Linked DNA regions of Homo sapiens: region 1 is linked to region 2. Evidence: fine-mapped expression QTL. A gene starts in region 2. The other region holds a variant in brackets. All regions are shown on one strand. Distances are between the middles of the regions. Region 1 overlaps TCP11L1 (t-complex 11 like 1). Region 2 holds the start of TCP11L1 (t-complex 11 like 1).

Region 1 (2,904 bases), 28 kb before region 2:
AAGGTTGCTGCCCTTATTCCTGCTTTAGAGATGAGGAAACTCGAGTGTCAAGTTACACGCCCAAGCTGCCCTGGGACACTGCTTGTGAACCCAGGAGAGTGATTCCAAGGTTGCAGCCCTTAGAACAATGATGGCTGCCTGGTCCTGTGCCCATCTGTTGGGTGGCCCTGGTCTCTCTGTGGTGCTTCATTACACCATCTCCTCACCCATCAGCACCTTAACTCCAGCTGAGCCCTCAGGTTTCTTCAGATGGACTCGTGCTCCAGCCCCTCAGAGGGCACATCCCTGCTGCCTGCCTTCCCCAAACGTACCCATGATCCTGCGAATGGGGTCATCGGGACTGGCCACGGCCTGGATCTGGCCCTTGAGCACGGTCTCCTTGTCCGTGGTGAAGGGAGAGGACCCACACAGGGAGAGGCAGCTGCTCACCTCCAGGCACACCTTCTCCCCGATGGTAGTGAGGACGTCCTTCAGATGGAAGGAGCTGGGGCAGAGGAGGGGAGAAAGGGCCTATAAGTAAAATACACCTCTAACCAGCTCCAACCGCCCACACCCGGGTGAGAATGACGGCACCAATAACTGGATTTGTGTGTTCAAGGGACAATTTGAGACTCTTTTCCCTGCCACCTTACCTCTCAGGCTGTGCATACCTGACCAGGGGGACTTTCTTTCTCTCCCTCTGCTAGAAAGGACAGTGGGAAGGGCAGGGGCTCAGAGTATACCAGGACCAACGACCCAAAGCACAACTTCCTGCTAGCCTCTGTGTGATAAAATCAGCCTGGAATGACCTCAGAATATCTTGATATACCTCTGGAGGAATACACAAGAAAGCAGGCATTTGGTAGCTGTGGGACAAGAGGGAGAGAGAAACTCTTCATTGGATGCCCTTTTGTACCTTTTGATTTTTGAAACATACACATGTATTAACTAATTTTAAAAGAATAAAGAGGCCGGGCTCAGTGGCTCACGCCTATAATCCCAGAACTTTGGGAGGCCAAGGCAGATGGATCAGGAGTTCTAGGTCAGGAGTTCAAGACCAGCCTGGCCAACATGGTGAAACCCCATCTCTACTAAAAATACAAAAAGATTAGCTGGGCATGGTGATAGGTGCCTGTAATCCCAGCTACTCAGGAGACTGTGGTAGGA[G/C]AATCACTTGAATCCAGGAAGTGGACGCCGAGATCACGTCATTGCACTCCAGCCTGGGCAACAAGAGTGAAACTCCATCACAAAAAAATAAAAAAATATATAAAAATTAAAAAATTTTTAAAAAATAAAAGAATAACGAAAAGTGAAATCCTAAAGTTAAAAAAAAAGAGTACCTGGATACCCTGGGTCCCCCAGGCTCTCCCAGGGTGCCTGTGGGGAGCCCCCATGCTGGCAGGCATGCTGTGAGAAGGTAACTGCCTCTGTTGTGGGTCTAGATCCTTTGTATGTAGAATTACTGGGGGGCATGGGAGCAAGCCCTGGCACTCACCATTGGCACCAGCTCTGTGCCCACCCCTGGAGGACCAGGGAGGATATGGGAGTGCAAGGCTGGGCTCCCAAGAAAGCACTGACCTGGATCCCACCCTCAGCGGGAGCTTTGACAGAGTAGTTCTCCAGGCAGGGGACCTAGGTGACAGCCCAGAGCTGTACCTGTGCAAAGGCCTCAGGCTAGGCCCTCAGCTGAGCAAACAAGTTTCCTGGCCTCTCAGCAAACTAGTTTGACTGTCAAAACTGTTGAGGCCCTAGTCACAACTTACGGACACGCCCCACACTGCACTGAACACAGCCATGCTTTGTGAAAATTCAGCAGTAAAATTCCTCCATTTTGTAAGGATGAGAATGTTTAGGGGGTACTTCCCTTGAAGAAGTCTCTGAATTGGACCTTGTTAGATAGAGCATTTACTTAGAACCACTCAAAGATATTCTATAGGCTGGAAACCATAGAAGTCACCCAACATGACTCCATGGTAGGAGCGGTCACTGAAGCCTGCACGCGTGCAGATGCGGACTCGTGCTGGGTAAGAAAATGATGCATTACACTGAGCACAGAACGCCTACAGGGAACAAGCAAGGGCAGAACACTTCAACCACATACATGCAGCTCTGCAGGAATATAGCTGGTTTCTCTCATGACCTTCCTCTAGGGCTCTGCTTTTCACTGTTAGTCGGTTATGAAAGCAATTCAGTGGGTAGCAACCAATTTTTTTTTTTAATGGAATAAGAATAGAGTAGAAACAATCAGGCTGCATTAAACACAGTTAGGGTCAGTTCCAGTTTGAGAAGTTTTCGTTTCTGTTACACGTGTGTTAAGTGTGTACTAGGTCACAATGGAAAATGAATTTCTTACTGCAGGTCCTAGTCACAAACATTTTTGTCCCAATTAATGTCTCTGGGTTCCAGTTTCTTCATAAGCTCCAGTAAGAGTTTAATACATTTGAATGGCTTTGGGAGAGGAATAAAGCACTCAACAAACAAACACAAGAACCTTGGAGGTCAGGAGACAAAGACAACCCCATTAAAGAAGGAAGGGGTCAGACAGCATCCTGCTCCCTGCGTAGGGAGAACAAATGAGTTGATGGCACTCAACACCGAGCCAGGCCCCGGGAGGAGCATGCTAACAGGGAATGGAGGGCCGCGGGACCTCTAAGCCCGGGATCTCCAATTCCTCAAGGCAAGCAACCATTGGTACCAGCGCTCCCCACCCTGCTCATGGCTTACCCCCCAGCCCGAGCCACTTCTTCTCTCGCCTCCTAAATGCTCCCTCACATCTACTATGTGCCCCATGCCAAAATTTAAACTTAAGGGCATAAATCTAATTACGTTCCCCCTCTTGCTTCAAATCCTTCAATGGCTCCCTACTGCTCTTAGGACAATAACCCAACTCCTTGGTGTGGCCTCTAAGGCCCGACAGGCTACTCG
Region 2 (2,904 bases):
TTGAACTGATCTTTAAAAGGAGTAGGATTTCACCTAGTTAAAACATGTCTGGAGGGGGAGAGGAGGGGGAGAGGAGGTGAAAAGGAGGGCATTTCACTCAGAGGGCAGAAGCCAAGGCACAAGAAAATGAGAAAAGGAAGTGGCTAGAGATGATGGAAAGATGCGTTGGGGCCAGATGGTAAAAGTGCTAGTTTTTATTTTAAAATTCCCCACCTAGATTTCGAACTTCTTAAGAGCCAGGACCAGTCATATTCCCCACTTATGCTCCATCTGTATATCCCCCAAATAGACACCCACAAGTATCTGTTGATAGAGATGAATCCCTACGTCATCTCTGTGATGTCACTGTATCTGGGAGGCTGGGCGTTGGTTTCAGACATACCTGGGCCCCAATTCTGGCTCTTTACTAGCTGTGTAACTTCAGTGTCCTCCTCTGTAAAACACAGCTACCTACCTGCTCGGTTTGGGGGGAGATGAAACGAGGGATTGTGCACGGCAGGCCTTCTACAAATGGTAACTCTAATTAAAGGGCTCTAGGATGCGGCCACGAACCATTTAATTTGCTTATATCGCGCGCATCCATTCAACCCCCACTGTGTCTAAAAAGAGAGCCGAGGGGAGGAGGATCCTCGCACTTGCCAAGAAGACGGTCATCCGTCGGCGCTGCACGCGGGCCTAGGCTGGACACAAGAGGCTCCCCAGCAGAAAGGGTCTTTCGGCAAAAGAAAAAAGGGGCTCTGTCCCCCGGCGCCGGGAATCCCCTCCTCTGGCACTGAGCTCCACTCGCGCCCGGCGTCCGGATTCCGTTGTAAACAGCTGTTCAGGCCAGCGAGGGAGTGGCAGGGCCGGGAGTAGGGGAGGACGCGGGCGCGCCGAGAGGACAGCCTCGAGGGGTGAGCTCCACCCGCCCGCGGACCCCGCCTCTTCCTCGCCTGCCCCCGACATCCCGGGATGGGATCCGACGGGAAGAGGCGAAGAGATGCCTGCGACTTGGACCGCGCGCCTCCCGGACGGGCCCCGCCAGCCTCCGCCCCAGCTCCCGCTCTCACCTGCCACGGAGTCGGCGTTCTCCCTCCTGCCGCTCCCGCCGCGAATCAGGCGCGGGCTGGCGCCGCGGCGGAAGCCGGAGGGATGCGCGGCAGGCAGGGGCGGTTCAGCCTCTGCCCCTCCGAGGCCGCATCCCTCGCCACGCGGCGGGCGGTCCTCCCAGCCCGACTCGGGTGGGCAGCGGTCAGAGCGGCCGCTTCTCAGCATCAGGAAGGAGGAGACTGCTCTTGGCCGGGAGGCGCCAGCCCAATATAGGGCAGCGCCATGTCTTCGTACGGAAAGGCGGGAGGGTCTTTCCCCTGCTTGCCGAAGGGGTTCAGTAAGCGGTGACTCGCAGCTGGGCGGCGCCGTGTTTCCTCAGGGAGAGGTGGAAAACATGGCCGATGACCGCTCAGGGGGCTCCGTGGCCAGTGGCTCCCAGCCAAGAGTCGCCCGCCGCACGCAGTGAGGCGCCATGTTTTCGTACGGAAACGCGAGAGGCATGGCCGAGTGCCCGCCGATGAGTCTCAGCTGGCGGTGGCTCGAAGCTGGGGATGGCCCGCCCCTAGGCGCCATGTTTCCATACGGAAAGACGGAACGCGCGCCGCATCCCAGCCGCTGGTGCGGGTGACGCGAGGAGAAAGGGAGGCGGAGAAGGCGCGGGTCAGTCAAAAGAAGGAATAAGAAGCCATTGCATCTGAAACCTTCCCCGCCCGTTCTTTGAAATTTAATTTTGCCATCCTGTTTGTAGCTACACAAAGTTTATTCCCCTTCTCTCATTTCCTCAGCTTTAAAAAAAAGTTAGTCCGGGCGCAGCAGCTCACGCCTGTAATCCCAGCACTTTGAGAGGCCGAGGCGGGCGGATCACGAGGTCAAGAGATCGAGACCATCCTGGCCAACATGGTGAAACCTCGTCTTTACTAAAAATACGAAAATTAGCTGGGTGTGGTGGCGCGCGCCTGTAGTCCCAGCTACTCGGGAGGCTGAGGCAGGAGAATCGCTTGAATCTGGGAGGCGGAGGTTGCAGTGAGGCGAGATCGCGCCACTGCACTGCGGCCTGGAGACAGACCGAGACTCTGTCTCAAAAACAAACAAACAAAAAAAAACTACAAAAAAGCAGATGGGGTGACATTGGTGCTTTCAAACACTGCTTCTAAATAGATCACATGTGGGTAGTTATTGCTAACGTATTGAAGGCCGAGTGCAATACCAGACCCTCAAACCATTTACTAACTTGCACATTAAAGTCTTTGCTTTAAAAAAAAAAAAAAAAAGACAAAAACAGAAGTTCTCTGGTGAAGATTCACTTTTTGGAGGAAAAAACACCAAAAACCCTTAAGATACTCAACTAAATGGAACTGTTAAGATCTACAAAGAATGGCTGGGCGCGGTGGCTCACACCTGTAATCCTAGCTCTTTGGGAGGTCGGAGGTGGGTGGATCACAAGGTCAGGAGTTCGAGACCAGCCTGGCCAATATGGTGAAACCTCGTTTCTACTAAAAATACAAAAAAATTAGCCGGGCATGGTGGCATATGCCTGTAATCCCAGCTACTTGGGAGGCTGAGGCAGGAGAATTGCTTGAATCCGGGAAGCAGAGGTTGCAGTGAGCCGGGATCGCACCACTGCACTGCAGCCTGGGTGACAGAGTGAGATTCCGTCTGAAAAAAAAAAAAAAGATCTGCAAAGAAAACATGCAGTTCTTCTGAGTCTAAACTCGTACCATTAAGTCTCTAGTGTTTTTCAGCCCTGACTACAAATACAACTTGGAATCTCAGGGGCAGGGGTTGGAAAAGTATCATCCAAAACTCCGGGGAGGGTGATGCCAGACAAGTTTTAAAAGCTCCCTGGGGAAGCAGGCTAGAACCTTCCTTAAAAGA

Evidence for each region. PIP is the estimated chance that this variant, and not a neighbour inherited with it, causes the effect.
Region 1: its variant is the best candidate, but not a certain one, in a credible set for the expression of TCP11L1 in visceral fat (GTEx, PIP 0.57).

The regions. Positions count from the first base shown.
Region 1 is chr11:33,066,267-33,069,170 of GRCh38, reverse strand. It overlaps TCP11L1 (t-complex 11 like 1), which reads right to left. Exons shown (of 10, transcript NM_018393.4): 9 at 312-484. Among named protein-coding and RNA genes, the nearest start is that of LINC00294, 8.4 kb to the left of the region's middle. RefSeq lists an enhancer at 419-920. The variant G/C (reference allele first, on the strand shown) is at 1,147.
Region 2 is chr11:33,037,938-33,040,841 of GRCh38, reverse strand. TCP11L1 (t-complex 11 like 1) reads right to left here and starts at 1,270. Exons shown (of 10, transcript NM_018393.4): 1 at 1,050-1,270. RefSeq lists enhancers at 450-769, 1,250-1,599, 1,320-1,867 and a silencer at 870-1,269.